3 separate regions of the Homo sapiens genome follow, and all the other regions are linked to region 2. The links come from fine-mapping of genetic effects on gene expression. A gene starts in region 2. Each other region holds a variant in brackets. All regions are shown on one strand. Distances are from middle to middle. Region 1 overlaps FBXO39 (F-box protein 39). Region 2 holds the start of XAF1 (XIAP associated factor 1). Region 3 has its middle 20 kb from the start of SLC13A5.

Region 1 (8,183 bases), 27 kb after region 2:
ACAGGAAGGGGACAGGCCATGTCAGAATTCCAGAATCTTGGGGAAAGGGGAAGTGGGACTCTCTGGCCTCTAGGACATAATCTTTATCACATCACGCAGGACCCCTTGATCCAGCACTTCCCACTGCTCCCACGTGATCCAGTTCCTCCATTTCCAGCCCACTTAACAAGTTAAGTGCCAGGTGACCAAACCATTTTTAGCTCCCTGAATGGGAACACATCACATACATTCACAGTTCTGTGGCTTTGCACGTATTGTTCCCTCTGCCCAGAATGCATCAGCTCCTCATCCACTACCACTAGGCCCACCTGATCTGCCTTGCAAATCCTACTCACCCTTCAAAACCCAACTCAGACGTCGCTTCCTCTGAGCAGCCCTCTCTACTTCCAAACACTATATTTAGTCAAACAGAGTAAGTCACCCTGCATGTGTGCTACCCCACACTATGAGTCTGCCTGAACCTTCCTGCTCTCTCACAGGGTTATAATTGAGTACTGGTCTGTATCCCTGGATAGACTGTGAAATCCTTGCAGGTGTGGACTGTGTCATGAATGTATCATTGAACCACCCACACCTGGCACAGTGCCTAATGCACTTGGGACCACAGGGAAAGCTGGTTCATTTGAGTTTAATCTCTGTTTGACAGGTAATGGCTCTTCCTTTTTATTCCCCACAGAAAGCAAGTGATTGCTTTCCTTTCCTCATTTTTGGAAGCCCTGCCTAACACACAGCTGCACTGTACATCCCAGTTCCTGGATGGACGAAGAAAGTGAACTGATCCAGCCCCAAGACCAGAGCTGCTGGGCCTTTCTGCCCGATTTGTGTCTGTGCCGTGTTTTCTGGTGGCTAGGAGACAGGGACAGGTCCAGGGCTGCTCTTGTCTGCAGAAAGTGGAACCAGATGATGTATTCTGCTGAGCTCTGGCGGTACAGAACCATCACCTTCAGCGGGAGACCTTCCAGGGTACATGCATCTGAAGTTGAGTCAGCTGTTTGGTATGTTAAGAAGTTTGGTCGTTATCTGGAGCACCTGGAGGTCAAATTCATGAATCCTTACAATGCTGTCTTGACCAAGAAGTTCCAGGTCACCATGCGGGGCCTCCTGTCTTGTCTGAGTAAGAGCAACAACCGTCTGAAATCTCTTTCCATCCAATACCTGGAGCTGGACCGCCTGGTATGGAGGAACAGCATCAGGAGCTCATTCATCAGCAGCTTGAGCTTCTTCTTAAAGAAGATGGGCAAACGCCTGGATTATCTCAACCTAAAAGGGGCCAGGCTGACCGTGGAGCAAGGCTGCCAAATTCTCGACTCCCTCAGCTACATGAGGAATGAGAATGTGATCTCAGAGCTCAACATCGAGGACTATTTCAGCCATCACCTTGCTGTCTACAACAGCCCCCAGTTCAAAAAGACCATGTCCACATTCCACAATCTTGTGTCCCTGAACCTCAACTACAACTGTATCTCCGACGAGCTGCTTGAGAACTTGTGTGAGAATGCCAGCACCCTCCGGACCATCAACATCAAATGCCACGTTCATGACCCCCACGGACAGGTCATCTGGGGTATGTCCTGGGCCAAGCTGGCCAGGCAGGCCACCAATCTGAAGGTGAACTTCTTCTTTGAACGGATCATGAAGTACGAACGCTTGGCCCGAATCCTCTTGCAGGAGATCCCGATCAGGAGCATCAGTCTGAGAAGCTGCTATTTCAGTGACCCAGACTGTTCAATGAGACCCACTCTGATAGATCTCCTGCCCACCTTCCGGCACACTCTGCAGGTAGGTAGGACTTGTGAGGAGTGACTGCTGTTCAGGTGACTGGCTTCCCCAGAAGAAAGCCCACTGCTGCCTGCTCTTGGCTAGGCTCCCAAATGTTCACTCAATCTCAAATTGAAGTTCTAGGAAATACCACCAACTAAGCCTCCTGCCCTCCTCCCAAGACCACAGTAGGCAACAGAAGCTGCTACTCACTTCCTACATGTGGTACAGACACAAGGAATTATCTGGTTAGCTGTCAGCTAGGGAAAACCCCTAAGTCCCCACTCAGAGCTATGAAGCCTGAGCCAGGAGGTGCCTTGCAGGCGAATAGCGGCTGGGCTGCCTCTTCCTACTTTTCCACGAGGTCACAGCAGCATGCAGGAGACCCTGTGGCTCCTATGGTCAGATCTCAGTGGGGGATCTGTCTGGTTATAGCAGTGCCAGTGCCTGGTAATTGGGGAGATAGAATGGGGAGGACCAGGCCAGACAAAAAGTCAAATTTGATTTACACAACCGAAGAGCTCAGAGTTTCTGGGTTGTTCCCTAATCTAGTAGCTTTCTCACCTGTAAGATCAGGATCATTTTGTCTTTCCAAGGACCTCACAGTGGTTGTGACAACTGATATTAACAGGTTTATGTATCTCTACAAACATGGATGGACTCCAAGGTGCTAATACCTCATTAGGTACCCACATAAACCAAAGGTGGGGTACGGCAGACATCATCATGACCCTTGTGTGCTGCAGAAGAACTTGAGGTTCAATGACCAGCCCACAGTCACCCAGCCAGTCCACTGCAGGGCTGGGACGAGCACCTTGTATACTCCAAGTACACTGCCTCCAAATTCCAAGTTTTGCAACCTTGGATGAGATCACCATCATTCTCAAATCTCTTCCTCTAAGAACTACATGTCCAATGTCCCTTATCTAAAAAGCCCCCAAATTCCATTAACACCAGACCTGTCCTACAAGAAATGCTAAAGGGAGTTCTTCAATCTGAAAGAAAAAGGCATTAATGAGCAATAAGAAATCATCTGAAGGTACAAGACGTATACTTACTATTACTTACTGGTAATAGTAAGTACATAGAAAAACACAGAATATTGTAACACTGGAATTGTGTGAGTAAACTACTCATATCTTACGTAGAAAGACAAACATATAAGCTGATCGAAAATAATAACAACAACAACTTTTCAAGACATAGACAGTACAGTAAGATACAAACAGAAATAACAAAAAGTTAAACAGTAGGGAGACAAAGTTAAGGTAAAAAGTTTTTATTAGTTTTAGTTTTGCTGTTTATTAGTTTGTTTATGCAATAGTGTTAAGTTGTCATCAATTTAAAATAATGAGTTACAAGATATTGTTTGCAAGCTTCATGATAACCTCAAATCTAAAAACATACAACAGATAAAATAAAAAGCAAGACATGAAACATACCTCCAGAGAAAATCACCTTCCCTAAAAGGAACACAGGAAGGAAGAAAAGAAGGAAGAGAAGACCGCAAAAAACCAGAAAACAAATAACGAAATGTCCCGAGTAAGTCCCTACTTAGTAATAACATTGAATACAAATGGACTAAACCCTCCAATCAAAAGACATAGGTGGCTGAACAGATTAAAAAGAAAGACTCAATTATCTGCTGCCTACAAGTAACACATTTCACCTATAAAGACACACATAGACTGAAAATAAAGAGATGGGAAATGATATTTAATGCCGATGGAAACCAAAAAAGAGGAGGAGTAGCTATACTTATATCAGACAAAATAGATTTCAAGACAAAATCTATAAAAAGAGACAGAGTCATTATATAATAATAAAAGAGTCAATTCAGCAAGAGGATATAACAATTGTAAGTATATATGCAGTCAACACCAGAGCACCCAGACATATAAAGCAAATATTATTAGAGCTAAAGAGAGAGATAGACCCCTATATAATAACAGCTAGAGACTTCAACACCCTCCTTTCTGTATTGGGTAGATCTTCAAGACACAAAATCAACAAAGAAACAGCAGACTTAATTTGCATTATAGACCAAAAGGGCCTAAAGGATATTTACAGAAAATTTCATCCAATGGCTGAAGAACACACACTCTTCTCTTTAGCACATGGATCATTCACAAGAATAGGCCATATGTTAGGTCACAAAAAAGTCTTAAAACAGTCAAAAAATTGAAATTATAGCAAGCATCTTCTCTGACCACAACAGAATAAAACTAGAAATTAATAACGAGAAACTTTGGAAATTATATGAAGACATGGAAATTAAACAATATGCTCCTGAATGACCAGTTGGTCATGAAGAGATTAAGAAGGAAATTGAAATATTTTTGAAACAAACAATATGCAGACACAGCTACCAAAACCTGTGGGATACAGTGAGCAATACTAAGAGGGAAGTTTATAGCTATAAGCGCCTACATCAAAAAAGAAGAAAAACTTCAAATAAACATTCTAATGACACACTTTAAAGGACTGAAAAAACCAAGAGCAAACCAATCCCATAATTGGTAGAAGAGAAGAAATAATAAAGATTGGAGCAGAAATGAGTGAAAGTGAAACAAATAATGCAAAAGATCAGTGAAATAAAAGCTTTTTGAAAAATAAACAAAATTAACAAACCATTAGCAAAAATAAGAAAAAATGAGAGAAGACCCAAATAAATAAAATCAAGAGATGAAAAAGGAGACATTACAACCAATACCAGAGAAATACAAAGGATAATTAGAGCCTATAACGAGCAACTATATGCCAATAAATTGGAAAACCCAGAAGACATGGATAAATTCCTACACACGTACAAACTACCAAGATTGAACCATGAAGAAATCCAGAACCTGAACAGACCATTGACAAGTAACAAGATAGAAGCTGTAATAAAAAGTCCCCAAGCAAAGAAAAGCCCTTGACCTGATGGCTGTACTGCTGAATTTTATCAATTTTATCAAACATTTACAGAAGAACTAATACCAATCCTACTCAAACCATTCCAGAAAAATAGAAGCAGAGGGAATAATTCTAAACTCATTCTACAAGGCTGATATTACCCTGATACCAAAGCCAGATAAAGACACATCAAAAACAAGAAAACTATAGGTGAATATTCCTAATAAACATTGATGGAAAATTCCTCAACAAATTATTGGCAAACCAAATTCGACAACACATTACAAAGATCATTCATCCTGACCAAGTGGGATTTATCCCAGGGATGCAAGAATGGTTCAAAATA[T/G]GCAAATAAATCAGTGTGACACCTCATAACAACAGAATGAAGAACAAAAAGCATATGATTATTTTAATTAATGCTGTAAAAGCATTTGATAAAATTCAACATTCCTTCATGATTAAAACTCTCAAAAAACTGGGTATAGAAGGAGCATACCTCAATACAATAAAAGCCATATATGACAGACCCACAACTAGTATCATATTGAATGGAGAAAAACTGAAAGCCTTTTCTTTAAGATCCAGAACAGAGCAAGGATGCCACTGTTACCACTGCCATTCAACATAGTACTGGAAGTCCTAGCTAGAGCAATCAGATGAGAGAAATAAAGGGCACCCAAATAGAAAATGAAGTCAAATAATTCTTGTTTGAAGATGATATGATCTTATATTTGGAAAAACCTAAAGACTCCACCAAAAACAAAAACAAAAAAAACTATCAGCTAAACAAATTCAGTAAAGTTGCAGGATACAAAATCAACATATAAAAATCAGTAGCATTTCTATATGCCAACAGTGAACAATCTGAAAAAGAAATCAAGAAAGTAATCCTGTTTATAATAGCTACAAATAAAATTAAATACCTAGGAATTAACCGAAGGAATGAAAGATCTCTACAATGAAAATTATAAAATATTGATGCAAGAAATTGAAAAGGACACAAAAAAATGGAAAGATATTCTATGTTCATGAGTTGGAAGAATCAATGTTGTCAAAATGTTTATACTATCGAAAGCCATCTACAGATTCAGTGCAATCCTATCCAAATACCAATGACATTCTTCACAGAAATAGAACAAAGAATCTTAAATTTATATATATATATGTGTGTGTGTGTGTGTGTGTGTGTATATATATATATGGAACCACAAAAGATGCAGAATAGCTAAAGCTGTCCTGACCAAAAAGAACAAAACTGTAGAAACCACATTACCTGACTTCAAATTATATTACAGAGCTATAGTCACTAAAACAGCATGAGACTGACATAAAAACAGATTTTAAGCCCCTTATATATTCTGGTTATTTATTAATCCCATAAAGACCAATGGAACAGAATAGAGAACCCAGAAACAAATTCATTCATCTGTAGTGAACTCATGTTTGACAAAGATGCCAAAACCATACATTGGGAAAAGGACGATCTCCTCTTCAGTAAATGGTGCTAGGAAAACTGGATAGCCATATGCAGAAGAATGAAACTAGACCACTATCTCTTGCCATATATGAAAATCAAATCAAAATGGACTAAAGACTTCAATCTAAGACCTCAAACTATGAAACTGCTACAAGAAAACATTGGGGAAACTCTCCAGGGCATTGAACTGGGCAAAGACTTCTTGAGCAATACCCACAAGCACAGGCAATCTAAGCAAACATAGACAAATGGGATCACATCAAGTTAAAAAGTTTCTGTACAATGAAGGAAACAATCAACAAAGTGAAGAGACAACCCACAGGAAGAATGGGAGAAAATATCTGTAAGCTACCCATATCACAAGGGATTAATAAATAAACAGAATATACAGAGCTCAAACAACTCTATAGGAAAAAAAAATAGTAATCCAATTAAAAAATAGGCAAAAGACTTGAACAGATATTTCTCAAAAGAAGACATATAAATGGCAAAATAAGTATATTAAAAGGTGCTCAACATCACTGATCATCAGAGAAATGCAAATCAAAACCACAATGAGATATTATCTCACCCCAGTTAAAACGATTTTTATTCAAAAGACAGGCAATAGCAAATGCTGGAAAGGATGTAGAGAAAAGGAAATTCTCATACACAGTTGGTGGGAATTTAAAGTAGTACAGCCACTGTAGAGAACAGTTTGGAGGTTCCTCAAAAAACTAAAAATAGAGCTTACATATGATCCAGCAATCCCACTGCTAGGTGTATACCCCAAAGAAAGAAAGTCAATATATCAAAGAGATGTCTGCACTCTCATGTTTATTGCAGCACTGTTCACAATAGCCAATATTTGGAAGCAACCTAAGTGTCCATCAATGGATAAAGAAAATGTGGTACATGTACACAATGGAGTACTATTCAGTCACAAAAAAGAATGAGATTCTGTTGTTTGCAATAACATAGATGCAACTGAGGTTGTTATGTTAAGTGAAATATGCTAGGCACCGAAGGACAAACTTTGCATGTTCTCACTTATTTGTGGGAGCTAAAAATTAAAACAATTCAACTCATGGAGATAGAGAGTAGAAGGACGCTTACCAGAGGCTGGGAAGGGTAGTAGGGGGTGCAGAGGGAAGTGGGGATGGCTAATGGGTACAAAAAAAGTTAGAAAGAATGAACAAGATCTAGTATTTGATAGCACGACAGGGTGTCTATAGTCAATCATCATTTAATTGTACATTTTTTAAAAACTAAAAGAGTATAATTGGATTGTTTGTAACACAAAGGATAAATGCTTGAAGTCATGGATACTCTATTTACCCCATTGTGATTATTACACATTGTATGCCTACATCAAAATATCCCATATACCCCATAAATATATGTACCTATGTACCACAAAAATTAAAAATTAAAGTTAAAAACCCCCAAATCATCATGGCTATCAGGCCCAGAGCCAGGTCGTGGAAATGTTACAGAACAACTCAGCCAGGCTCAGCATCTCTGCCCACACACATCTTCCCTTTTGGTGCTCTTCCAGAAATTAACTTGTGAATTCAACAACAACCATGAGTCACTCGACGAGGAGCTGCACCTCCTCATCATATCCTGCAGGAAGTTGTTTTACTTCAAAATCTGGGCTTTCCTTGATGTTAGTTTTGTGGAGCGGATCCTGAAGAGTCAGAAAGAACGGCAGTGTGCCCTGCGTGTATTCAAGGTAAGAGGTCCCCAGGCTGGTTCCACGGCGTAGAGTGGGGGCATCCAGGAATGGTGCTTCTGCTCTGGAACGAAGGGCTGAATAAGGCAGTGGGGGACAATCATCTGTTCATTGAAAATCAGCAGTTTCAAAGAAGGGAATCTGGAGCTCTCTTTTCTAGTAGTTGGGTTTGGTCTTTTTCTGATTCTGCCAACATATTTTCCTGATTCAACAACTGTATGTGTAGATCATTTAAGTTGCTGTCAAGCCCTGAAAAGTGTAGTCACCGTGTGTGTGTGTGTATGTGTGTGTGTGTGTGCGTGTGTGCGTGCTCATATGTGGATGTATTTCTCTGTTGGC
Region 2 (8,183 bases):
TTTTAACCAGGAAAAAGAAAAAAACAAAAACAAAACTATGAATGTGTGAAAAGAGACTTCTCAAAGAAAGAAAGGAAGAGAAAAGTACTGGTCACTCCCCACACAGACAGAATGCCATGGAGTTGCTCTTTCTTGCCATGAGTTTAATGACAAGCTTCCTTCCCCTTCATATGCCAACTAAGCAGCAGCCAGCAGGTCATTCCCCGTCTTTGCTGCCCAGCCAGGCCTAGAGTCTTCCCCAAACACAGTCACAGATATTCCCAGGCTTGAATGCCATCCAGAGACTAGTCATCTGATGCAATTTCCTGTGGTCTGACAAACGAACTCCCATCCAAACACGTTGTGCTTGGGGAGTCTGACTATATGATCACATCTCCCAGGACTCAGGCCCACTCTGACCACAGGATTCTTCTAAAGACACCACCGACAGAAGTGTGTGCAATTGCACCATATAATTTTTGTCTGGGAAGTGAAATATCTCTGTCGTTACATCATCTTCCTTAGCATAGTGATCCCTTAAAAGAAGAAAGCCTAAATAAGATCCCTTCTCAAAGCCAAACTATTAAAACAATCCTTTTTAAATATTCTTTCCTGTCTTCCATGCTGTACAAGTACAGCTTTCACACAATTTCTCTTCTGATCTTCAAAACAATGCACGGAGGGGTGTATTATTCCTGTGTCCTAGTCCAGCCAGGACTTCCTGCTCCCCTTTCCCCCCGATTCCTGCAAAGGTGACATGGCCAGCCCGGCCAATTCACGTCTGAGAGACTGGCTTCCTGTGACAACCTTCACCCCCCTCCCCTGACCCACAGGCCTGACACAAAGAGACTGCCGGAAACTCCCCACAACGGCCAAGTGGGTAGCCACAGTGTCCTGGAAAGGAATTCTAAGCCCACAACAGAGCATTTCTCATCTAGCTGTTTTTTGTTTTTTTTTTTTTAAATGGGATTGGGGTTGGCGACCAGCCAAAGACGGGTGGCAGAATGATGAAATCATACAAGCCCACAGCACCGATTGATGTCGTAGTGGAAATGGGGACAGGCTTTTGTGCTAACCAGAGTGTTCCTACATACACTCTCTGATTAATAATAGTGATGGCCCAGGAACAGCCGTGACAGTCAAAGAGAAACATTGCTGTATTTGTAACATTCCATTTTTTTAAAGAGTGTATATTCATATATTCTTTATGAAATCTAAGTTATCTTGAGAAATGAAAAGAAAATGGCCATTGCTGCCACTTTGAGAGCCCTCCGACTCAGGGGTGTTGTGTGGGTTGGGGGAGATTTCCAACTCCCTGCTTAATTATCTCAAAACACCCCATCCATTCGGGTCAGCCAGCATTTGACTGCCTGCTACTGCGAAGCTCAATACTGCACTCTGCCTAATAAGCACAAAGCCCGCGGGTCTCTCCAGGAAGGCAGGGGTGGTGGGTCAGAAAGAGCTGGCTCTCAAATCGCCCATGCCTGTGATTGGATGGGGAGGAGTTGAGACAATAGACACACAGCCAACTAACCAAAGCCAGAGACAAAGGAGGTAGATTCTAGATCAGTGTTGGCATAGGAGTTGGTCCTGAAGAACTGCTGGGATTTTGATGAGGAAGGGAAGGGTTGGCGTGGGTGGGACAGTCTATAGGAGGAAACATCTTGGAAGAAAATTAGGATGTAGATGAGAAGCAACTTATGGTCACTTCTAATTCCACTCCTATCCCCTGGCCACACATTCCATTCCTCTAAGGTGTCCAATCTATACACCCCTGCCACCACCCCTATCCCATCTCAGCAGGAGACAATATGTGAAAAGAAAGTTCTTCATTTTTCCTTCTTTTCCATTTCTTTCTTCCTGTCTTTCTTTCTTTTTTTTTTTTTTGTAACAGAGTCTCGCTCTGTCGCCCAGGCTGGAGTGCAGTGGCGCGATCTCGGCTCACTGCAGGCTCCACCCTGGGTTCACGCCATTCTCCTGCCTTAGCCTCCCGAGTAGCTGGGACTACAGGCACCCGCCACCTCGCCCGGCTAATTTTTTGTAGTTTTTAGCAGAGACGGGGTTTCACTGTGTTGGCCAGGATGGTCTCAATCTCCTGACCTCATAATCAACCCGCCTCGGCCTCTCAAAGGGCTGGGATTACAGGCATGAGCCACCGCGCACAGCCCTTTTTTTTTTTTTTTTTTTTTGAGACAGAGTCTCGTTCTGTTGCCCAGGCTGGAGTGCAGTGGTGCAATCTCGGCTCACTGCAACCTCCACCTCCTGGGTTCAAGCAATTCTCCTGCCTCAGCCTCCTGAGTAGCTGGGATTATAGGCAAGCACTACCATACCCAGCTAATTTTTGTATTTTTAGTAGAGACGGGGTTTCACCATGTTCGTCGGGCTGGTCTCGAACTCCTGACCTCGTGATCCGCCCACCTCGGCCTCCCAAAGTGCTGGGATTACAGGCATGAGCCACCAAGCCAAGCCCACTCGTTTTTCATTCTTGATATTGACAGACTGCCCAGAGACAGACAGGAGTGGGTAGTGAGGGTCAGAAGGATTAAGGAGCTTGCCTAGCCGATGAGGAAGGGAACAAGATAAGATGCAAACCTCAGTCTCTGACTCTCAGCCAAGTGCTCACTACCCCAACTAGCTGTCAAATGAGGTGGATGGGGCCTTGGTTAGGTACATAGACACCTGAGTCATATCAACCTGGTGTGAATCCCAGCTCTGATGTTGAGCGATTGGCCTAGCCTCTCTCTGCCTCCATTTTCTCTTTTTTCATTTCATTTTTCTTTTTTGAGGCAGAGTCTCACTCTGTCACTGCCTCTGTTTTCCATAGCAAAATGGAGTTAATAATGCTTACATGAGGGATTAAAACGAAGACAATGCCTACCTAATGCTTAGAATGGTGCCTGGAACATAGGAACAATGTTGAAACAGTCTTTCATTCTTCCCTCCTATCACTGTGATCATCAGTACCACCACACACTGCTTCTCATTTAGTGCCTGAATTTTAGAGCCTGCCTGGAGGCTGGAGCCCTGCCTGGACATTTCCCTTAATCTTGTTATCCTCCTCAGAGAGGCGGCACCCACCCCATTGGCAGACGCCACGGGAATTCTCTGGGCCTGCTTGTCATCACTCCAGATGTTGTTTAGAGTTCTTCTGTTAGCACAGCTGTTTCTAGGGTCTGGAAAAACTCTAAGGACCCCCAGGAGGATACACACCAGATTGGGTCTGGGCTCACACCACCCTGCATCCCCAGAGCCTCCCTGGACGCTGTTTGCAAGGTCCTCACCGCCTGGAAGTCCAGGAGCCATTTTTAGGGAACAGCATTCAAGCTCAACATGGCAAGTTCCCTCTTTCCTGCAGGGGAGGACCAGAAGGGAGCCGGAGATGGGGGAGAAGGGTGGGAGGTGGATGGTTTGGAAAAGGGATGGAGACCCAGACGGAGAGAAGCCAGCCAGCCAGGGTGAGGGAACAAGCTGCTGTGCTGCCCAGGAGAGGCCTGGCCTCAGGCTGCCAGCCTCAGGGAGGTAGATGCGGCTGTGACAGCAGCAAAGAATGACGGCCAAGGGCGACAGCAGGGGCTGGCCATGCTGTAAAGGGGCTTCTTGGGAGGGTCCAGCCTCAGGAATCAAGGGGAACTCCTGAGCCGAGAATTCTGAAGATCTCCTCCCTCCCTGAAGCTGTGGGCTGGGCCATCGGAAAACTTTCAGTTTTGTTTCCTTGCCTGCAAGAAACGAAACTCAACCGAAAGCCTGCAGAGAGCAGAACATGGAAGGAGACTTCTCGGTGTGCAGGAACTGGTAAGAAAGTGCTTTCTCCAGCGGCAGACCCGGGCTGGCGAGGGAGAGACGTAGACGACATAGGGCTGTTTCTGAAGGGAGCAGAAAGTGGTTCCTGCATAAGAACACTTAGGAGGACAAGCAGCTGGAGACCGTGGGCCCCAAGGGTAGGAGGGTTTAAACTTGGTAATCTCTGGGTGGGGGTGGGCAGCATTACCTCCACTTCACTGCAGCCCCTTTCCCCCAAATGTTAGGCTTTCTGGGACAGTTCTGAAGCCAAATAGCCCGGCCAGTGGTCCCAACTGGGCTACTCATACTTGTGAGACCTTGGGTCCTAATTTGGGGTTCTGATACTATGACCTTCACACCCATCTGTGAAAGAAAGTGTCCCACGGAGATTCTCCAGGACTACTCTCACCCTCCTTGGAAAGGGAGCCGTGGGGCGGGGCAGGGGGGACAGAGCAGGGGGCTGGGACCACACCTCTAACGGGAGGGGGGGCGCGGAATCTGACCGATCAAAAAGCCCCATTCTCAAAGCTCCCTACCTGTGACAGGGACCTGAGTGGACCCTCCCCAGAGAGCTTTGCTCCAGCCAGACCCTTCAAGTACTCTGGTTTCTCAACCAGCCCAGGAAGAGCAGGGGGAGAAGGGGCCAGGTCAGGCAGAGGAGAGAGAGCAGAGGAAGGGAAGATGATGCTGCCTGTGTGCCCGCTGCCTGGGCAGAAGAGGAGTGAGGCTTTGACAGTCCCTCTCGGAGCACGTCCCCTGTGCCAGGAACATGGGCATGTAACTCTTCTCGTCCCCTGGGCCTTTACGGCTACAGCCACCCCATTTCCCTTCTCCCAAGCTGCCACAAGCAAGAGCTGATGGAAATGAAAGGAGTCATTTCTTTCTTTCTTCTTCTTTTTTTTTTTTTTTTAAGATGGAGTTTCGCTTCTTTTTGCCCAGGCTGGAGTGCCTGGAGTGCAATGGCGCGATTTCAGCTCACTGCAACCTTCATCTCTCGGGTTCAAGTGATTCTCCTGCCTCAGCCTCCCGAGTAGTTGGGATTACAGGCGTGCACCGCCATGCCCGGCTAATTTTGTATTGTTTTAGTAGAGATGAGGTTTCACCATGTTGGCCAGGCTGATCTCTAACTCCTGACCTCAGGTGATCCACCCGCCTCGGCCTCCCAAAGTGCTGGGATTACAGGCATGAGCCACCACACCCAGCCAAAAGGGGGCACTTCTTGGCAAAAAGGACGGTTAGAGAAAAATGCCCTGCCCAGGAAGTGGGAGGCTCAGAACCCTTCCTTCACTGTGGTCTCCAGGAAGAACCTCGGAGTCTCTGTGAGTTAGCGCAGGTGAACCTGAAGGCAGGGGAGACTTGGGAAGCTCTCGCTTTGGAGATTTTGGAAGTTGGCATGGCCCTGGCAGGAAGCGTGAGCCTAGCAGGGCTGCGTTCCTAACACTGTGGACCAAACAGGGGCACCAGAAAACAAGAAAAAAGATTCAAGAGAATTTGGCACTTCTCTCAAATTATTTAAATTGAAATAATTTAATTATTTACATTATTTAAAATGAAATGTTTCATTTTAAAAACAGCCTTATAGAGGTATAATTGACCTACAATAAACCTCACATTTTAAAGGGTAGCAATTGATAAGTTTTGGCCTAAGTTATATACATCCATGAAACACCATCCCCGTAATTGAGATAATGAAGCTTCCTGTCACCCCAAAAGCTCCCCATGCCCCTTTGTAATTCCTCCCTCCTGCTCCTTCCCATGCCCTGCCCCAGCAATGTAAGAGCTCTGTAGATCATCCTTATTCTTATTAGATGCTGCCTCACTGTTCTGACTTTTGGACCCACACAGGGAGTGTGGGGCAGGTGGTGTCATCATCATCACATGTTCAGTGCTTAAGGCCTCTGGAGATCTAGCCCTGGGTATGAAATACAGCTCCATGTTTTATAATATGAAAATAAGTCTATTTTTCTATCCCCACACCTTGACCCTGTAGTAAAAGACATGTAGTCTCTGCCAACTTCACCCTCCATGAGGCTTACTGCCTGCGGTTCCTGGTCCTGTGTCCGGAGTGTGAGGAGCCTGTCCCCAAGGAAACCATGGAGGAGCACTGCAAGCTTGAGCACCAGCAGGTGAGGAGGCGGCAGGGAGGATGGGGTCTGAGAGTCAAGGTGAGTGTTCAGTCCTCCCTGCAGGTGAGATGGGGTCTGAGAGTTGGGGGACGAGGGTCTAGTCCTCCCTGCAGGTGAGATGGGGTCTGGGAGTCAAGGCAAGTGTTCAGTCCTCTCTGCAGGAGAGATGGGGTCTGAGAGTCAAGGCGAGTGTTCAGTCCTCTCTGCAGGTGAGATGGGGTCTGAGAGTCAAGGCAAGTGTTCAGTCCTCTCTGCAGGTGAGATGGGGTCTGGGAGTCAAGGCGAGTGTTCAGTCCTCTCTGCAGGACAGATGGGGTCTGAGAGTCAAGGCGAGTGTTCAGTCCTCTCTGCAGGTGAGATGGGGTCTGGGAGTCAAGGCGAGTGTTCAGTCCTCCCTGCAGGTGAGATGGGGTCTGGGAGGGGCAAGTGTTCCATCTTCCCTGCAGGAGAGATGGGGTCTGGGAGTCACAGAGTGGGTCCAGTCCTCCCTGCAGGAGAGATGGGGTCTGAGAGTTGGGGGACGAGGGTCTAGTCCTCCCTGCAGGTGAGATGGGGTCTGGGAGTCAAGGAGAGTGTTCAGTCCTCCCTGCAGGTGAGATGGGGTCTGGGAGGGGCAAGTGTTCCATCTTCCCTGCAGGAGAGATGGGATCTGGGAGTCACAGAGTGGGTCCAGTCCTCCCTGCAGGAGAGATGGGGTCTGAGAGTTGGGGGACGAGGGTCCAGTCCTCCCTGCAGGTGAGATGGGGTCTGGGAGGGGCAAGTGTTCCATCCTCCCTGCAAGAAAGAAGGGGTCTGGGAGTCAGGGAATGGCTCCAGTCCTCCCTGCAGGAGAGATGGGGTCCGGGAGTTGGGGTGAGGGCTGGGGACTTAAGGCAAGGGTCCAGTCCCCCAGGCAGAGACTCACTTGAGGGCCATGGGAAGTCATTTAGCCCCTCCACACAAAGCCCATGGAAAGGAAATGTTAATCCTGCCTTTTTCATGCTAATCTGAGTCTACCTCCAGTTTTCCTATTTCCAATCCTTTCCCTACAGGCTTATGGATCTGGCATAGGCAAGAGGTTCTGGTTTCAGGAAAGACTGGCTGTTCTCTTGAGATCTGTAAAGAGAGGATGTGAAAAAGGAAGGTCCTGGAAGGCAGTCAGATGGAGCCCTGTTTCCCGCCTTTCCATGTCCATTCCTCCTGGGGCCCCTGATCTGTCTCTCTGGAGATACTCAAGCTCAGGCAGCCGTTGCCAACTCAGACTGGTCTGACAAACACTTCTTGAACACTGGGCGGGGTGCTAGAGAGACACTGAGGTAGCCACATCGGATCCCTGCCCTCTGGGAGTTCACAGACCCAAACCCGGAACACTGTGAGCCAAAGTGGATGTGGGGCAGGCCCTGGGTGCTGGGTGGACCCACATCTGGTGTGTGTGTGTGTGTGTGTGTGTGTGTTTAGGTTGGGTGTACGATGTGTCAGCAGAGCATGCAGAAGTCCTCGCTGGAGTTTCATAAGGTAAGAGCCCCATGTGATTTCTCCTTTACAGCCAAATAGACCAACCTGAGAAAAGGAGAGGAAGGGGAAACGGGAGGCCAGTAATAGAGATTTCCACCTGACCACTCTTTTCACCCCATTAGGCTTGGAGAGCAGTGGAGAACTAGCCCACCGCATAACACAGGTTCTCCTGTCCCCCAGATACTGATCAGAAGGGTTTTCCATGGTCCATGAGTCCATCAGAGCTCAGATCCCCCGAAGGCAGTCCCGCACTCTGGCCCTTCTCATCTGCTTTCTCGTATTGGCCCTAATTCCCTAGGGAGATGGGCACAAGTCCTTGATCTGCCTACAGTCAAAGAGGCCAGTGATCGGCCAGGCGCAGTGGCACACGCCTGTAATCCCAGCACTTTGGGAGGCCAAGGCGGGTGGATCACGAGGTCAGGAGTTCGAGACCAGCCTGACCAACATGGTGAAACCCCGTCTCTACTAAAAGTACAAAAATTAGCTGGGCGTGGTGGCACACGCCTGTGGTCCCAGCCACTTGGGAGGCTGAGGCAGGAGAATTGCTTGAACCCGGGAGGCGGAGGTTGCAGTGAGCCAAGATCAAGCCACTGCACTCCAGCCTGGGCAACACAATGAGACTCTGTCTCAAAAAAAAAAAAAAAAAAAAAGGGCCAGTGATCATGCCCTTCCTGCTGCCTCCCACAGGCCAATGAGTGCCAGGAGCGCCCTGTTGAGTGTAAGTTCTGCAAACTGGACATGCAGCTCAGCAAGCTGGAGCTCCACGAGTCCTACTGTGGCAGCCGGACAGAGCTCTGCCAAGGC
Region 3 (8,183 bases), 23 kb before region 2:
ACGCCCTTAGATGGCATTTCTGGACCTGCCCTGGGCCAGAAGGGAGCCCACCGCCCTGAAGAGTGAGACCCAGGCCTGGTAGCATTCACCACAAGCAGGCTGAAGAGCCCTTGGGCCTTGAGTGAACATTGGTGGTATCCTAGCAGTACCCCACCTTTGACCCTGTGGGCCTGTGGTGGTGGTGGCCATGGGGAGAGACTCCTCTGCTTGTGGAAAGGGAAAGAAAGAGTGGGGAAGATTTTGACATGGGGCTTGGGTGTCAGTTCAGCAGCAGTACAACACCAGGCAAATTCCTAAAATTTCTGACTCCAGGTACTGGCTTCTAGATAGCATCTCTGGACCTCCCCAGGGCTGGGAGAACTTGCTGTCCTGAAAGGAAAGACATGAGTCTGGCTAGCTTTACTACTTACTAATTGCACGGCTCTAGGGCCTTGAGCGAACATAGGTGGTATCCAGATAGTGGTCACAGTGGGCCTTGACGAGACCCAGGGCTAGGCTGGCTTCAGGTCTAACCAAGTGCAATTCCAGTGGCGGAGACAACAGAGGTGCTTGTGTCACTCCTGCCCCAGCTGCAGGCAGATCAGCAAAGAGAGATAAGCTCTTTATTTGGGAAAAAGTAAGGGAAGAGAGCAAGAGCCTCTGCCTAGTAACCCAGAGAATTCTTTCAGATCTCATCAAAGACCACAAGGCAGATCAATTCTGCTATTAAGAGAGTCTGATGCTTTCTTGAGTATGACAGATACATTTTTCAACTCCAGAATTTCTGCTTGATTCTTTTTAATTGTTTAAATCTCTTTGTTAGATGTATCTGATAAAATTCTAAATTCCTTCTTTGTGTTATCTTAAATTTCATTGAGTTTCCTCAAAACAGCTATTTTGGGGCACATGTTCTCAGGACCTCCTGAAGGCTGTGTCATGGAAAAAAAAACCCCAGCTATTTTGAATTATCTGTCTGAAAGGTCACATATTTCTGTATCTCTGGGATTGGCCCCTGGTTCCTTATTTAGTTCATTTGGTGAGGTCACATTTTCCCAGATGTTCTTGATGCTTATAAACGTTCATTGGTGTCTCGGCATTGAAGAATTAGGTATTTATTGTAGCCTTTGCAGTCAGAGCTTGTTTGTACCCATACTTCTTGGGTAGGCTTTCCAAGAATTTGGAGGGACTTGGGTTTTCTGATCTAAAATTTTGGTCACCGCAACTGTATCTGCACTTGAGGCATCCCAAGCCCAGTAACACTGTGGCTTTTGCAGGATTGGCCAAGCAGAAGAAAAAATCAGTGAGTTTGAAGACAGGCTATCTGAAAATTCATAGTTGAAGGAGTCAACAGACAAAAGAATGAAGCACACCTACAAGAATTAGAAAATAGGCTCAAAAGGGCAAATCTATGAGTTATTGGTGTTAAAGAGGAGGTAGAGGTAGAAAGTTTATTCAAAAGGATAATAACAGAGAACTTCCCAAACATAGAGAAAGATATCAATATTCAAGTACAGTAAGGTTATAGAAAAACCAAGCAGATTTAACCCACAAAAAAGACTACCTCTAGGCATTTAATAGTCAAACTCCCAAAGGTCAAGGGTAAAGAAAGGATCCTAAAAACAGCAAGAGAAAAAACACAAATAACATACAATGGAGCCGCAATACATCTGGCAGCAGACTTTTCAGTGGGAACCTTGCAGACCAGAAGAGAGTGGCATAGCATATTTAATGTGCTGAAGGAAAAAACTTTTACCCTAGAATAGTATATCTAGTGAACATATCCTTCAAGCATGAAAGACAAATGGAGACTTTCCCAGACAAATAAAAACAGAGAGATTTCATTAACATCAGAGCTGTCTGAAGGAAATAAATGCTAAAGAGAGTTCTTCAATCCGAAAGAAAAGGACGTTAATGAGCCATAAGAAATCATCTGAAAGTACAGAACTCACTGGTAACATTAAATACACAGAAAAACACAGAATATTATAACACTGTAATTGTGGTGTTGAAACTATTCATATCTTAAGTAGAAAGACTAAAAGATGAACTAATCAAAAATAATAACTACAACAACTCTTTAAAGACATAGTAGAATAAGATATAAATAGAAGCAACAAAAAGTTAAATAGTGGAGGATGAAGTTAAAGTGTAGAGTTTTTATTAGTTTTCTCTTTGCTTGCTTGTTTGTTTATGCAATCAGCATTAATTTGACATCAGTTTAAAATAATGGGTTATAATGTATTATTTGCAAGCCTCATGGTAACTTCAAACCAAAAACCAACAGATACACAAAAATTAAAAATGAGAAACTAAAACATACCACCAGAGAAAATGACCTTCACCAAAAAGAACACAGGAAGGAAGAAAAGACCACAAAGCAACCAGAAAACAAATAACAACATGGCAGGAGTAAGTCCTTACTTATCAATAATAACGTTGAATGTAAATGGACGGAACTCTCCAATCAAAAGACGTAGAGTGGCTGAATGGGTGAAAAAACAAGACCCAATAATTTGTTGCCCACAAGAAACACACTTCACCTAAAAAGACACACATAGACTGAAAATAAAGGGGTGGAAAAAGATATTCCTTACCAATGGAAACCAAAAAAGAGAAGGAGTAGCTATAACTATATCAAAATTATATTTTAAGACAAAAGCTGTAAAAAGAGACAAAGAAGGCCATTACATAACAATAAAGAGGTTAATTCAGCAAGAAAATATAATGATTATAAAAATATATGCACCCAACACTGGAGCACCCAGATGTATAAAGAAGGTATTATTAGAACTAAAGAGAGAGATAGACTCAATAAAATAACTACTGGATACTTCAGTACCCTACTTCCAGCAGCGGACAGATCATCCAAACAGAAAATCAATAAAAAAAAATTGGACTTAATCTGCACTATAGACCAAATGGACCTAACAGATATTTATAGAATATTTCATCCAATGGCTACAGAATATGTATTCTTCTCCTTGGCACTGTTCTCAAGGAGAGATATGTTAGCCTACAAAAAAAGCTTTAAAACACTCCAAAGGATTGAAATAATATGAAGTATCTTCTCCGACCACAATAAAATATAACTAGAAATCAATAACAAGAGAAATTTTGGAAATTATAAAAACACATGGAAATTAAACAATATGCTTCTGAATGACCTGTGTACCAATTAAGAGATTAAGAAGAAAATTGAAAAATTTCTTGAAAAAATAACAGGAACAATATGCCAAAACCTGTGGGATACAGTGAAAGCAGTACTAGGAGGAAAGTGTGTAGCTATAATAAGCACTTACGTCAAAAAAGTAGAAAAACTTCAAATAAACAATCTAATGACACCTCTTAAAAAACTAGAAAAGCAAGAGCAAACCAAATCCTAAATTTGTAGAAAAAAGAAATAATAAACATCGGAGCAGAAATAACTGAAGTTGAAATGAAGAAAACACTACAGAAGATCAATGAAATGAAAAGTTGGTTTTTTTGAAAAGATAAACAAAGTTGACAAAGCTTCAGCCACACTAACTGAGAAAAAAAAATACAGAAGACCCAAATGAATAAAATCAGAGATAATAAAAGGAGTCACCAAAACCAATGCTGCAGAAATCCAAAGGATCATTAGTGGCTATAATGAGAAATTGTATGCCAACAAATTGGAAAATCAATTAATAGAAGAAACTGATAAAAGAGCATGGTGGTGCAGGATATGGGGTCAGTATAAATACCAACGCATAGTCCCTTTGCAAGAGTGAGGGCCCAAGTTAAGGTAATGAGTTCGGCTTGCTGAGAGGTAGTGGAGATGGGGCACAGCGGTAGCCTCAATGATAGATGTGGAAGATACTATAGCATAGCCTGCCTTTGCTGGTGTTTGGCGATTAGGCCTGGTGGAACTGCCATCAATAAACCAAGTGTGATCAGGGTGAGGAACAGGAAAGAAGGAAACATGGGGAAATGAAGTGAA[T/C]GCCAAGTGTATCAGAGAGATACAGTCATGGGGGCCAGGTGTGGTATCAGGAATAATGTGGGAGGCCGGATTGAAGTCCAGGCCAGGAACAATGGTAATTGTGGGAGACTCAACAAAGAGTGAGTACAGCTGAAGGAGCCAGGGAGCAGAAAGTGTATGTGTCAGGTGTGAGGAAGAAAATAGATTTTGGAAGTTATGAGAACTGTATAGAGTGAGTTGAGCAAAGTTTGTGATTTTGAGGGCCTCTGGAAGTATTAGGGCAGCAGCAGCCACCGCATGCAGACATGAGGGCTAGGCTAAAACAGTAAGGTCAAGTTGTTTGGACAGAAAGGCTACAGGGTGCGGTCCTGGCTTTTGTGTAAGAACTCCGATTGCACAGCCCTGCACTTTGGCTGTGTGTAATGAAAAAGGTTTGGAATGAGTTAGGGAGAGCTAGTGTGGGGGCAGCTTCTAGGGCTGTTTTTAAGGAACGGAAAGGAGTGGCAAAGGGATTTAGGATCTATGGGGTCAGCTGGGTTTGGTTTTGTGAGTTTACATAATGGTTTAGTCAGGATGGTAAAGCTAGGTATCCAAAGGCGGAAGTACCTAACCATGCGTAGGAAGGAGAGGAGTTGTTTTGTAGAAGGGATTGGGGTTTGGGGAATTAGCTGGACATGATCAGCAGGCAGAGCATGTGTGTTTTCGTGAACAATTATGCTGAGATAGGTAACAGATGAGGAAGAAATTTGGGCTTAACTGAAGTCATGGGGGCTGTCCGTGAAGCCTTGCAGCAGTACAGCCTAGGTAATTTGTTGAGCCTGATGGGTGTCAGGGTCAGTCCAAGTGAAAGCGAAGAGAGGCTGGGATGAAGGGTGCAAAGGAATAGTAAAGAAAGCATGTTTGAGATCCAGAACAGAATAATGGGTTATGGAGGGGTTGTGGAGGGAGGTATTGAGGATAGGAGAGTATATGGCTTTGGCATCACGGGGTGGATAGGCCAGACAATTTGGTTGGTAAGGCCAGATCCTGAACTAACCTGTAAGGCTTGTCCAGTTTTTGGACAGGTAAAACAGGGGAATTGTAAGGAGAGTTTACAGGCTTTAAAAGCCCAAGCTGTAACAGGCGAGTGATAACAGGCTTTAATCCTTTTAAAGCATGCTGTGGGATGGGATATTGGCATTGAGCAGGGTAAGGGTGATTAGGTTTTAATGGGATGGTAAGAGGTGCATGATCAGTCGCCAAGGAGGGGGTAGAGGTGTCCTATACTTGTGGATTAAGGTGGGGGTATATGAGAGGAGGATGCGAAGGAGGCTTTGAACTGGGGAAAAAGCAGCAATGAGGTGTGGCTGTAGCCCAGGAATAGTCAGGAAAGTAGATAATTTAGTTAAAATGTCTCGACCTAATAAGGGAGCTCTAGGCAGGTGGGGATAACTAAAAAAGAGTGCATAAAAGAATGTCCATGTTGGCACCAGAGTTGGGGAGTTTTAAGAGGTTTAGAAGCCTGGCCGTCAATACCCACAACAGTTATGGAGGCAAGGGAAATACACCCTTGAAAAGAAGGTAATGTGGAGTGGGTAGCCTCCGTATTGCTTAAGAAGGGGACGGACTTACCCTCCACTGTAAGAGTTACCCAAAGCATCCGCGATGGTCCAGGAGGCTTCTGAGGCGATCGGGCAGTGTCAGTCTTCAGCTGCTAAGCCGAGAAGATATGGGAAGGAGTCAGTCAGAGCCTCGGGCCAGTTGGACAGTCCAGTTTCCAGTGGGGACTCACATAGATGGGACACAGCTTAGGAGGAATCCCAGGCTGCGGGCATTCCTTGGCCCAGTGGCCAGATTTCTGGCACTTGTAGCAAGCTCCTGAGGGAGGAGGTTCTAGAGGAACCCCTGGCAGCTGCGGTTCAGGTGTTTGGAGTTCTTGTGTGCTGGAGATGTGGCTGGGGTTTGTCTCACAGCGGAGGCAAGGAATTGCAACTCAGAAATACATTGCTACTTGGCTGCCTCTACTCTATTATTGTACACCTAATTAAGTCCTGTTGTGGGGTTTGAGGGCTGGAATTTAATTTTTGGAGCTTTATTTAATGTTGGGAACAGATTGGGTAATAAAATAAAATGCATATTGAGAATAAGACAGCCTTCTGACCTTTCAGGATCTGGGGCTGTAAAGAGTCTAAGGGTTGCTCCTAAGCAGGCCATGAACTGGGCTGGGTTTTCGTCTTTACCTTGAGTAGTTCCTTTAAGTTTGTCTTAATTAACAGCTTTGTAAGCTGCCTTTTTAAGCCCTTCAACTAGGCAGGAAACCATGTAATCTCGCCTAGCTATACCTGGGGAATTTGCCTGATAGTTCCATTGGGATCTTCTCGGGGAACTGCTCTAATGCCTTCATGGAGGTCTGGCTCATGAAGCTGGCAGTTATCAGTGTGAAATTGGGCTAGAGAAAAAACTCTTTCCCGTTCATTTGGGGAGAGGGTAGAAGTTAGGATGACATTTAAGTCATTCCAGGTTAAACTGTAAGACAGATTTAGATATCGGAATTCCAGTATATATTTAGTGGGGTCTGATGAGAAAGAGCCTAAACGCTGGCTGATTTGGGAAAGGTCTGATCGAGAAAAAGGCACATGTACCCTGACTATGCCTTCAGCTCCAGCCACCTCTCTAAGAGGAAATTGTTGGGCAGGTGGGGAGGGCTAGTCGTGGGAACAAAATTGGAAGCCAGACCGGTGTGAGGAGGGGAGGTGATTGAAGGATTTTAGGGTTGGGGAGCAGAGGCTGAGGAAGAATTGGGACCTGGCTTGGCCTGGCAAGGAGCAGCCTGGGGAGAAGGGGAGAGGTCAGATGAGTCCATAGAAAAGAAGGATTCAAAGGACTCATATCTTGGGGTGGAGACTGAAGGAACAGACAGGAGAGAAAGAAGAAAGATTTGGGACAAGTCTCATTGGGAGCAGAGACTAGGGAGGGACCGATGTGTAAAAGAATGCCTGGACGTCAGGCACCTCACACCTTTTGCCCATTTTTGACGAAAATTATCTAGATCTTGTAAAATGGAGAAATCAAAAGTGCCGATTTCTGGCTATTTAGAACCATTATTGAGTTTGTATTGGGGTCAAGCGGTATTGCAGAAGAAAATAAGACACTTAGATTTTAGGTCAGGCAAGAGTTGAAGAGGTTTTAAGTTCTTGAGAACACAGGCTAAGGGAGAAGAAGGAGGAATGGAGGGTGGAAGTTTGCCCATAGTGAAGGAGGCAAGTGTAAAGAGAAGGGTAGAGACACAGAGAAGGCGGGTGGGGAGCAGCCCTGGGCTGCAACGTGGGTGAGCAGCCAAAGCAGGCGTCCCCGCAATTGACTTGCCACCAAGGGAATGTGGGTGAATGACCAAGGCAGGTGTCCCTGCGGAGATCAGACACCAATGGAATGTGGGTGAATAATCAGAGAGGCGTCCCCGCAATGATTAAACACCAGGGGAAGGCTGCCTTCCCGAGTCCGTGACCAGCGCCGGAGTTTTGGTTCCACAGATAAAATGTGTCTCCTTTGTCTCTACCAGAAAATGAAAGGAATTGAAATTAAGAGAAGGGAGAGATTGAAGCATGGCACCAAGATTGAAAGGAGAAAGAGGTTGAGGGATAGTGAGAGAGGTTGGAGAAGAGAGTAAAAAGAGGCCACTTACCCGATTTAAAATCGGCGAGATGTTCCTTGGGCTGGTTGGTCTGAGGACTTGAGGTCATAGGTGGATCTCTTCACGGAGTGAGGGTGAAGACAGGGGACTGGTCTCCTGAAGGAGTCCCACTGACCCGGATCTTCGGCACCAAATGTTTCACGTGTCCATGTGAAGAGAGGACCAAACGGGCTTTGTGTGAGCAGCAAGGCTGTTTATTTCACCTGGGTGCAGGCAGACTGAGTCCAAAAAAGGAGTCAGCAAAGGATGGTGGGATTATCATTAGTTCTTATGGGTTCTGGGATAGGCAGTGGAGTTAAGAGCAATATTTTGGGGACAGGGCGCGGATCTCACAAAGTACATTCTCAAGGGTGGGGGGAATTACAAAGAAACTTCTTAAGGGTGGGGGAGATTATAAAGTACATTGATCAGTTAGGTTGGGGCAGAAATAAATCACAATGGTGGAATGTCATCAGTTAAGGCTATTTTCACTTTTTTTGTGGATCTTCAGTTGCTTCAGGCCATCTGGATGTATATGTGCAGGTCACTGGGGATATGATGGCTTAGCTTGGGCTCAGAGGCCTGACATGCACCAACAGTGACCAAGCTGAGAGT

Evidence for each region. PIP is the estimated chance that this variant, and not a neighbour inherited with it, causes the effect.
Region 1: its variant is fine-mapped to the expression of XAF1 in whole blood (INTERVAL, PIP 0.95).
Region 3: its variant is fine-mapped to the expression of XAF1 in whole blood (TOPMed, PIP above 0.99).

What each region holds. Positions count from the first base shown.
Region 1 is chr17:6,779,113-6,787,295 of GRCh38, forward strand. It overlaps FBXO39 (F-box protein 39), which reads left to right. Exons shown (of 4, transcript NM_153230.3): 2 at 677-1,779; 3 at 7,668-7,844. The coding sequence starts at 757. Among named protein-coding and RNA genes, the nearest start is that of FBXO39, 7.0 kb to the left of the region's middle. The variant T/G (reference allele first, on the strand shown) is at 5,000.
Region 2 is chr17:6,752,340-6,760,522 of GRCh38, forward strand. It overlaps XAF1 (XIAP associated factor 1), which reads left to right and starts at 3,707. Exons shown (of 7, transcript NM_017523.5): 1 at 3,707-3,771; 2 at 5,750-5,885; 3 at 7,323-7,379; 4 at 8,067-8,183. The coding sequence starts at 3,740. RefSeq lists enhancers at 1-65, 91-385, 3,364-3,883.
Region 3 is chr17:6,729,297-6,737,479 of GRCh38, forward strand. No RefSeq gene overlaps it. Among named protein-coding and RNA genes, the nearest start is that of SLC13A5, 20 kb to the left of the region's middle. The variant T/C (reference allele first, on the strand shown) is at 3,941.